2 separate regions of the Homo sapiens genome follow, and region 1 is linked to region 2. The links come from fine-mapping of genetic effects on gene expression. A gene starts in region 2. The other region holds a variant in brackets. All regions are shown on one strand. Distances are between the middles of the regions.

What was found. PIP is the estimated chance that this variant, and not a neighbour inherited with it, causes the effect.
Region 1: its variant is fine-mapped to the expression of TRAM2 in lung (TOPMed, PIP 0.95).

Annotation. Positions count from the first base shown.
Region 1 is chr6:52,500,169-52,505,539 of GRCh38, reverse strand. It overlaps TRAM2 (translocation associated membrane protein 2), which reads left to right. Exons shown (of 11, transcript NM_012288.4): 10 at 786-949; 11 at 2,270-5,371. The coding sequence ends at 2,343. Among named protein-coding and RNA genes, the nearest start is that of TRAM2, 74 kb to the left of the region's middle. RefSeq lists an enhancer at 575-1,774. The variant C/T (reference allele first, on the strand shown) is at 2,441.
Region 2 is chr6:52,574,987-52,580,357 of GRCh38, reverse strand. It overlaps TRAM2 (translocation associated membrane protein 2), which reads left to right and starts at 3,298. Exons shown (of 11, transcript NM_012288.4): 1 at 3,298-3,562. The coding sequence starts at 3,443. TRAM2-AS1 (TRAM2 antisense RNA 1) reads right to left here and starts at 3,156. Exons shown (of 3, transcript NR_103446.1): 1 at 1,965-3,156; 2 at 749-983. RefSeq lists a silencer at 2,726-3,585.

The DNA of each region.
Region 1 (5,371 bases), 75 kb after region 2:
CTTGCAGAAGGTCTGGAGGCAGCAGACCCTTTAGTCTCCCACATATTGTTATTTTTTGGAAATCTCTGGATATCAGGCCTGAGGGGAGAAGAGATAGCAGCCTCTGGTTCCATCCAAACCATCTTCATCCCCTAGTCCTGGTTTGCTCAGACTGTAGTCCAAATAGGAATCCCTTACATTTGTCTGGCACTTTGTGGTGCACAGAGGCATCACACCCAGTCTCTCAGTTGATATCATTCTCCTCTTCTTGTGTGTGGGTGCTTTAAAACCATGTGCTTAATGGCTTGGCCAGTGGCCTCCTGTGGCAGTGAGGAAGCCACTATTTTCCGGAGCCCCTAGGCCCAGGAGAGTGATTTGTCCAGGGTTGCTCCACTTTTAAGTGACATGTTAAATGAGAAGCCACTCTTCCAGAAATTCAGTTCATTTGAATGCTACCAATATTTGTGGAGCTTACATTAGTCTTGTTCTGTGCAATGGGCGCAAAACAGACACAGCCATGGACCCCTCCCTCGTCATAGGAGTAGCGTGATTGTAGAGCTGGCCGTACGTCTGTCGCCACTTCCTTCCCGTCTCCCTGGCACATGTGATGTATGCTGGAGCAGAGACTGACTGAAGCACACATTCTTCCTGGTGATAGTGGTGGTATCGAAGAGGGCCAGTGGTGAAGGCGGACGTGATAAGCCATGGGAACTGCAGGGCCCCTGGCCCTTGTTCTCCCCTGCACAACCCAGCCCAAGGCTGTGAGCCCAAGCCCCAGCCTAAGCCCCTAACCCCCTGCTCTGCAGGCTCTGCGTGCTGCTGCTGGTGTGTGCCGCCCAGGCCTGGCTCATGTGGCGCTTCATCCACTCCCAGCTGCGGCACTGGCGGGAATACTGGAATGAGCAGAGTGCAAAGCGGAGAGTCCCAGCCACACCCAGACTACCAGCCAGGCTCATCAAGAGGGAATCTGGTGAGTGCCAGGGCCCTTGGCAGAGAGTGGAGCCAGGGAAGTCTGTCTGGGATGGGTGGGAGGAGCCAAGGCACCTGGCTTCTTGGGCGCTGCCCAGACCAATCCTGCCAGCTTCTCCTTCCTGACTCTTACCTCAGGGCTGGGGCTCCTAGCTCCCTGATTGGCACGTGGCTGGGTGTGGGCCAGGGACAGGCTGTGGGTGGGGCTGGCCCTAACTAGGCTGGGAGCCCTGGCCACCACGGGGCAGGGCAGTGGCTGGGTGGGGAACTCTGGCAGGAAGCGTGTCCTCAGGGTGGCTTCTGGACCCCAGCCAAGTGCTGCTACTGCCGCCGCCGCCCATTCTCAGTGCCGGACGGCGGCCTCTGTCCTCACCTGCCCTTTTGCTCCACATCTTAGCCTGCCCCTGCCTCCCAGCTTGCTGGCTCCTCCTCTGTCTCCAAGAATGACTCACAGTGACATAGTGCTAGGTGGGGGGTAGGGGTGGGACACTTATCCTTTGGCCCGTGCACGCACTCCAGTCATCACCCACCTTCAGCAGGTCCTCAGGCCCTGCCAGCCCTGCACGTTCTGCCCAGCCTGGGGGCCTGTCTGCACTGGGCGCTGCTTTCTGACTCACCTGCTTTTCTCTAGGTGGCCACCTGCTTGGCAAAGGCTTATGTGTGTTTGAACCAGACACGCGCGCAGCTGGGTGTGTCACAGAGTCAGGCCTGGCTGGCGGGGGAGGTATGGGGCATAAGACTGCAGCCAGTACCTCTGAATTTGAGCAAGCGCACGGAGGTATTTTGAACAATAGAGCACAATTTTTCTGCCAGAGGAGTGTCAGGCATCCTGCTTGAGGCCTTGTTCCTACAGCCTCTTGTCCCCCTCCCTTCTGTGGCCACTGCTCCTGGGAGTTCTTGCTGAACTGGAAGTGGGCTGATGCCTTGCAGGGGCCTGAGAAGAACTGAGGACAGTGAGCAGTGACAGCATCTAAGTGATTTCGGCGAGTATCTAGCCCCAGCCTCAGGCTTGGGCAGGCTGGCCTCTGTTGTTGCTGAGTTACTGTGTGTCATCCCAGGCCCCTCCTGCTAAAGTGCAGTCAGAGACCAAGCCTCTCAAACAGGGCCACTAGTCCAGGGCCCTGGGGAAGACAGGACCCTCCTGGGAGCCGTCTGCTGGCTTGCATTTGCTGTGCAAGGCTGCAGCCTGGCGCCCCTTTGGTGCATCCATGTATAGCAGCTGGGCTGCCCGGGCCCCTTCCTTGGCCTGGCCCCACCCTCCCCTCTTCTGCCTTAGCTCCAGCAGAAACACCATGTATGCTTGTCTCTCTCCACTTCCCAGGTTACCATGAAAATGGAGTGGTGAAGGCAGAGAACGGAACCTCCCCACGGACTAAGAAACTCAAGTCTCCCTAAGGCCAAAGTGCTAAGAACAGGAATCCTCTTGGTGGGGGCCGAGCAGGGGGCAAGGAGCCCAGGCCCCCTCCCTGCCTCCTCCTTCCTGCCTGTGATG[C/T]TCCGTCTCAAACAGCCGAAACCTGTCTTGCAATGGGGGGAGGGGGCGTTTCGCTTTCCTTCTTCTTGGCTTCCTCTTATTCTTCCACAAACCATTCTCAATAAAGCCAAAAATCTTTCTCTTTCTCCCCCTCAGGCCACCTCCTGTCCTCACTCCTGTCCTGTGCTGGCTTTTCTGGAACGCCAGGCGCCCATGGCTGGCACCTTTCTGCTTGCTCTGTCTCTTGCCTTATGGCTGCTGCTTTTCCTTTTTACTTCCTATTTTCACCTTATCTTGCAATTTTTCTGTCTGATTTTTACAATGGGAGGGGAGCTAAGATTGCAGTCCTGTCCTTCGGTCCCCCAGGGCCTGCCGGTCAGAAGCCTGGGGCTGGTAGGCCCTTGGTGGTCCTCATGTGGATGGGCAAGAAGAGAGCGGCCATCTCGGATCATAATCTCCTTGGTGCTGATTAACTGACGAGATATATGATTCCAGTTCTGCATGTACCATCTTGAGGCACAGCAGCCACTGCTCGTTGTAAATGCCAAGGCATTTGGCTTTGGGACGTGACAACTCAATCCAGAAGGATGGTGTGAACTCGGTTGGGTCCCGTGACTCGAGCTCCTACCAGTGGCTGGCCGCGGATTGGAAGCCAGCCTGCTGTCGCTCTGTGGGGGGGGACACGTCTTCCCACTGCTTAGAGCGAGAGCAGAGCAAACTGCGCAGCAGGCACCTCCAGAAAGGTAATGGTGGCAGAACCCACAGTGGAGTCGACCTAGGCCTTTCTCCAGCAGTCCCAGTCGCCATTGCTTTTTCAGCCATTCACAAGCATTCAAAACCAAACCAAACAGCAGTTCATATACCTGCCTGAGATAGGCTGGTCCTCACCTCCAGAGCCAGCCAGCCCCGTCAGGGGCCAAACTTACTACCTTGACTTCATCTCTAGCTGCAGAAACACTAAGTCTCAAGGGCTTCAGCCCCATGCTGGTCCCTTGGTGTTCAGGGAGGGTCACTTGGACCGCTGTTCATCTGGCCGCCCTTGTTGAGTGTTCTTTGGAATTGTCGTTTTTTGAGCACAACTACAGCATTTTAGACTGCATGAAACCATGACTGACTGAGAGTCACTCTCTGGGTAGATGATAGGCGCCTTTCTGGCCCCTTCCCTCACAGATTCTTTCCCCTCCCCTCCACCTGAAGAGAAGGCCTCCAAGTCCTTTTGGTGCCTTGTGAGGACTTTTAGAAGGGGCGTTCAGCTTTAAAAAGCCGGTCCTAATTACGGCCGGACGCAGTAGCTTACGCCTGTTATCCCAGCACTTTGGGAGGTCGAGGTGGGCAGATCACCTGAGGTTAGGAGTTCAAGACCAGCCTGGCCAACATGGTGAAACCCCATCTCTACTAAAAATACAAAAAATTAGGTGTAGTGGCAGGCACCTGTAATCCCAGCTACTCGGGAGGCTGAGGCAGGAGAATCGCTTGAACCTAGAAGGCGGAGGTTGCAGTGAGCGGAGATTGTACCATGGCACTCCAGCCTGGACAACAAGAGCGAAATTCTGTCTAAAAAAACAAAAGTCCCAATTAAGAACCTCCGAACTCTGTTTTGAGGCAAAGGGGAGTAGTTCTTGGTAGGTGCAGGAATAGTAGTGTCATTTGGAATACTGGTCATCTTTCTGACATCACAGTAGAAACCAAACCTTGGATTTAGATTCAAAAGGGGGGAAATGGGTCTTTTCATCAAGGCAACTCCCCTTCTCCAAGTCACTTACATCATAGATAAATTTTAGCTTCCCAGTAACTGAGGGATTTGTTTCCTAACGCCATTGGAGGCCTTCATCCCTCTCTACGATAAGGTTGCAGAAATGGGAAGAGCTACCCGTGGTTGCTTTTGATTACCCTTAGGAAGTGAGACAGTGTTTTTGAAAATATGTATTTCCCCCATTTCTCCCTCTCCTTCCCTGACACTTCTCTGGGCTGCACAGCAGAAACGTTGGTAAAAGGGCAGTTTGGTTTCAACACAGCAGACCTGATATGGGATCCCTTAGCCACTTTAGTCAAACAGCCCTGACAGAGTCTATAATTGAGTTCAGGCCCCCCACCTTGCCTAATAACTGCAAATCGCATGTTCAGCCAGCAGCCTCCTAAGCCCACCTTCCTCCCCCATTAGAGAACACCCATCCTAGGTGCTCTCCAGGCTGTGTCATTGGCAGGGCTTCACATGCAGGAGGCCTCTCTCAGGTGAGTCCAGGTTAAACTGTTGAGTTGTGGCTTCAACAGATATGTATGGCATGCTGGGATGTGCCAGGTGCCTGCGTTGTGCCAGTTGCTGGAGAGGTAGTGTGAGCAGAGCAGCTGAAATCTTGCCATCAAGCAACCCTCATTCTCATGCCTGTAGGTTTCCATTGCTCTGTCCCAGGACACTTGCGTGCCAGAGACGCCACAACTTCATGTCCCTGTCTCTTGCAAGCTCCCCGTGCTGCCAGTACTTCATGCCTTGGATGTGGTCCCACCAGCCCAGTGGCCGGGGTCAGCTTAGGCTCTGCTTCCCAGTGGACGGGTGTGCTAAGGGTTTATTTTATGTAAAAAAAAAAAAAAAAACAAAAAAAAACCCTGAGACCATGAGTGGGGCTGGCATCTTGCCAGCCTGGGCTTCAGGGATGTTTGGGGGGGGTGGTTAGAGGGTAGTTGTAGGGTACTTTGTCACCCCCCTCCCCCTGCCACCCTCCCTGGCACGTTTATTTCACAGCAGAGCCAAGTCTGTGGCAGGTTGACACAGACTGTGTTGCCAGAGCTGAAATAATTCCACTTCATCCTATGAGCGTGTTGGGCTAGCTTGTTCTAATTTTGGCCACTTTGGCTGTTTTCTTCAGTTTTATGCATTCTCTCCTGCCCCAAAGTGCCAAGCCATTTGTGAAGGCTCTGCCAGACACCTCCAAGCTTGAGAGCTCAGCACCATGC
Region 2 (5,371 bases):
CTTTCCATTTCTTGCCAGGCACAGTGGCTCACGCCTGTAATCCCAGAACTTTGGGAGGCTGAGGTGGGTGGATCACCTGAAGTTGGGAGTTCAAGACAAGCCTGACCAACATGGAGAAACCCTGTCTCTACTAAAAATACAAAATTAGTTGGGCATGGTGGCACATGCCTGTAATCCCAGCTACTTGGGAGACTGAGGCAGGAGAATCTCTTGAACCCGGGAGGTGGAGGTTGCAGTGAGCTGAGATGGTGCCATTGCACTCCAGCCTGGGCAACAAGAGGGAAACTCCATCTCAAAAACAAATAAACAAAAAACACCAACTTTCCATTCCTTCCCATTGTTTGCAGAATAAAGTCACAATTCTTTATCACAGCATACAAAACCTGCCACAATCCAGTTCTATCTTAACTCTCCAAATTCATCTATCACTCCTTTTCTGCATTCTCTGTCAGTACCATTTGTCAGGTAAAGGCCCAGCCCAAATGACCTCCTCCCTTACACCCCAGAGAGAATTAGGTTACCTTTTCCTTGTACTCAGAGTGTGCATATTTCAGGTTGTTCTTAGAGTCACCATCATCACACTGAATTGTAATGATGTCTCAGTCAATTCTAAAAGATTGTAAGCTTTAGCAGTGTGTATTAGCTATCTCTTGCTGTATAACAAATTACAATAAAATTTAGTGGTTTAAAACAGCAAATATTTATTCTCTCCCAGGTGCAGTGGGTCAGGAATTCAGGAGTGGCTTACCTGGCTAGTTCTGGCTCAGGGTCTCTCATGAGGTTGTAGTCAAGAGATTAGCAGGGGCTGATGTCATCTGAAGGCTTAACTGGGGCTGGAAAATCTGCTTCCAAGGTGGCACACTCATGTCTGGCAAGTCAGTGATGGTTGTTCGCAGGAGGTCTCAGCCATATGGAGGATATGCCTCCACAGGACTATGAGTATCCTCACAAAGTGGCAGCTGGTTTCCTCCAGAGGGAGTGACCTGAGAGAAAGAAAGCAGAAACCCTCAAATGCCTCTTCTGGCCTAGTCTTGGAAGTCACATACCATCACTTATGCTACCTTCTATTTATTAGGAGTGAGCCACTAAGTCCAGCCCACACTCAAGGTGGGGGAACGAATTGCCTCTTTTTGAAGGAAGGAATGTTGAAAAACTGGAGGACATATACCCATATGCCACGTAATGATATTCAGGTCAAACAACATATAAAACAGTTGTTTCATAAGATCTTAATGGAGCTGAAAATTTCCTATCACATAGTGATGTCGTAGCCACTGTAACATTGTAGCGCAATGCATTAACCACGTGTTTCTGGTGATGCTGGTGTAAACAAACCTACTGTGCTGCCCCATAATATAGTTTAGTATAAATGTGTAGCAAAAGGCTGGGTGCAGTGGCCTGTAATCTCAGCACTTTGGGAGGCCAAGACGGGTGGATCACTGAAGATCAGGAGTTCAACACTAGCCTGGCCAACATGGTGAAACCCTGTCTCTACTAAAAATACAAAAATTAGCAGGGGGTGGAGGGCACCTGTAATCTCAGCTACTCAGGAGGCTGAGGCAGGAGAATTGCTTGAACCTGGAAGGAGGAGGTTCCAGTGAGCCGAGATGGCGTCACTGCACTCCAGCTTGGGCAACAGAGAATCCGTCTCAAAAAATGGCGGATCACTTGCGGTCAGGAGTTCGAGACCAGCCTGGTCAACATGGTGAAACCCCCACCTCTACTAAAAAATACGAAAATTAGCCAGGTGTGGTGGCACATACCTGTAGTTCCAGCTACAGGCTGAAGCATGAGAATTGCTTGAAGCCAGGAGGCAGAGGTTGCAGTGAGTCCAGATCTCGCCACTGCACTCCTGCCTGGGCAACAGAGTTAAGACTCTGTCTCAAAATAATAATAATAGCAGTGGGGGTAACTTAAATTCAACCATCTAAACCTATAAAGAAACCAATTGTATAAAGTTCAACCTCATAGGTGTGGCCGCACGTTGCAAATTTGAACACATCTTCACAGGTGGAAAGTCGAGGTGCTTCAGAGTTCTTGATCTTTCTGTTCCTCACAAGACGAAGGTTCAACTTTGAGAAAGGTCAGCCTTGAAGTTAAATGAGGTTTAGTCCAATCTAGGCATTACTTTGTCATTTCCTTGAGAGTCAGATAAGGGAATTACAGACCCAAGACTGTATTTTAAGTAAGGTGGAGTGCAGATTGAGGAAGTAAAATTTCTCTAGGAACTCCATCCTGTCTCAATTACATTCCACCGCGTGCCACTTTTAAAAAACCATATTTATTTAGAAGTGAAATAACTGTGGACCTAATAAAAAATGGAATAGGAATTAGTTTTTTTTGTTCATTACGTATTTCTGCACATCTAGAAAGTAACTGACTGCTTCATTACTGGTAGGATTAAATCCAATATTTGCGAATATAATTTATTAAGAACACCTTTTGTCCTTCCAGGAGTACTTTTAAGACTTAATATTAAATAGAAACTTTCAGTGAGAAAGTTCCTTCCTTTTTTGCTTCTTCTGTGTTTATTCTTCCACTTCTTCTGATTAATATGTAAGGTAGACTTTCGGTGAAATGTGTGTAGCTAATTAATGGTGGCATGAGGGTCCCAAAAATTACTGGGCAAAACTGCAATCATCCACCCTCTCCCCGCATTGGAGCGAAAGCTCCCCTAGGGCAGGGTCTTTCGGTTTGTTGATCTACCTGAACTGTGCCTAGCCCACTGCAAGTTCTCGATAAATACTTGAGTAATCTCCATTCACTGATCGTCCGTGCAGGGCGCTGTGGCCAGCCAGAAGGCCGGTTCGCGGCTTCCCTGCTTCCGCCGCACCCGCGCCGCCCTCAGCCCCCGGGGCCACAGCCCGCAACCCCGGGAGCATCCGGCTGCCCGGCCACCCCCGGGGCGCTCGCTGCCTCCGGGGCCTGCCCTTCCCGCGGAGGAAGGAGCGGAGCGAGGAGTGGGAAAGCTGGGCCCACTTCCTGTCCGGGCAGGCCTGGGCGCCCGCCTCCTCCGCGGCCTGCTTTCTCCACCGCGAGCGGCTGAGCCTCGGGCCCCGAGAATGCGGCCGGGCGCGGCGCTGGCGCGGGACGAGGAGGAGCCGAGCCCCGCTCGCCGCCCCCGTACGCCTCCGCCCCGGTAGCCCGCGCGTGCCCAGCGGCTAGAGGGTTAAGCCCGCGGGGGGCGGGGCCAGGCGCGCCGAGTGCGGGCCGCGGGCTGGGCGGGGGCTGGGCGGGGGCTGCGGCCGGGGGCGGTTACGGGCGGCCGGGGGCGGGCGGAGGAAGGGGGCGGGCCCCGAAGTTGTTCCGCGCTGGGCGGGCGAGCGGCTGTGGGAGAGCGGGCGGCGGGCCGGCGGGCGGACCGGGCCGGTGCTGGAGAAGTTTGCGCTGCGGTTCGTGAGCGCAGGGTGCGGGCCCCGCCGGCCGCTGCGCGCCCGCTGCCATGGCTTTCCGCAGGAGGACGAAAAGTTACCCGCTCTTCAGCCAGGAGTTCGTCATCCACAACCATGCGGACATCGGCTTCTGCCTGGTGCTCTGCGTCCTCATCGGGCTTATGTTCGAGGTGAGAGCCTGGGGAGGAGGGAGCTGGAGGGACAGTGCCCCCTGTCGTGCACCGCCCGGCACACCCCTGCAGGTCAGCGGGCCCTCCTCTGATCGGAGGCTCCTGGCTGCCGTGTACGTTATCTGCACCCCGGCTTTGTGCACTGTACCCCTCCGGCCTGTACCCCGGCCAGCCCAGACAGCACCCCCAGCTCCGCGCCGTGCCAGCCATGCCATGCTCTGCCGCCCCCTTGGGCACTCATCGTATCCTGCAGCTCTGTCTGCAGCCCTGAAACCCCAGCCTGGCCTCGAACCAACCGCCGCGCTGCCACCATGGCTTGACGCGTGGGGTTCCCTTTCTGGCGTCCAGGAGCCAAGCCCAGAGACTCCCAGACCCGCAGTCATTGCACAACCCCCTCTTGCCCCAAGGGGTGGCCACTAGCTCTTCTGGGCTTTTCCAGTGGGAGAGACCCAGAACCTTTTCCACTTCCTATGTGATTTTCTGGGTGTTTTGCATCTCAGCTCTGGAACGTGCTCGGATGTTCACGTGTGGCCCTGGCCCCATCCCAGCAGTGGCCTTCTGCTCTCGTCTCGCTCCCACTTTTTTGCTGTGCTCTAGAAGGCCAATTTTTGGATATCCTTTACCACTCCGTGAACTGTCCCTTTAGATCCATCTGCGGCGACCCAGAGCTTCACCCCCTTTACAGAGACAAGAAGAGAGACAGGGATACCCTCCACTTTTTGGGGAAAGTTGATTCTCTTATAGTGTAGGAGTGGGGGGCAGAGGATGGGGATCCCACCCCCAACAGCAATGTCCTGGTGTCGGCCTCCCAGGCAGGGAGTTGTAGAAAGCCAGCAAGGGGTCAGAATTCACAAGACTGATGGGAAGGATTCCCTACTCTTGCAGAGCAAGAAAAATGTGATATTCAAAAGTGGGAAGAACTGGAGGAAGCTTGGCATGGGTTTGTTGCGGTATATCTTGTCTCAGAAGTGAGATATGTGAGCGACATTCCCCTCACTCTCACCGTGGTCTCCTCTGGTTCCTGAGACTCCTTGTCCTCCCTTCTGCGTCAGCTTGCTTATTGCATTCTCACGGTTGGGTTAGGAAGCTGTGATCATTTACAAACTTCCTTGGAGATGGAGGATGGCTTGCCTGGCTAAATTTCCTTCCCTGTCCCTCTGTCTCGGGTTCCCTGTATCTCTACGAATGACAAGGGCCCTAATTGGCTGGCGAAGCTGCCCTCAAGCTGGGAACGTTCTTGTGGTGGCCAAGTCAGGGTTGGATGAATGAATGTGTCCGTGGCTGAGCTTTAGGGTCTGTAGGAAATAAACGGTGGTGCTAGGACTGGGGTCTCCACTCCACTTTTTGATAGTGCTCCTTTAGTTCAGTCCCTCTCTCCTTCCTCTCCCTCTCACAGCTCTCTCTAGTGGTATATTGGGTCGGGCTTGCTCCACCTTGTTCTGGGTTCTCCCCTGGAAGTGTGTGGTGTCACACAGAGTCATATCCGTGTGTCTCAGTCCCTGTTCTGTGACTAGTCTGACTGAAAACTGACTGCAGCCTCAGTTTCCCCATCATTAAAGACGTTCATAAAACTGGTCTTCGTCACAGGGTGGTTGTAAGGTTTAACTGAGATCATATCAGCAACAAAAGCCATAACATCTCCTACCAACATGAAAAAGTCTCTTGCGCCTGGAGCCCTGTGATTATTTATCATAATAATAGCTTAACAAAATAACAGAATTTCCTTTGCCCAGCGCATTCTCTGCTGTCTGTTTGCTGTCCTCCATTCTAAGAGGCCTCCAAGTGCGTGTCCCCAGCCTTGGAGGGTGT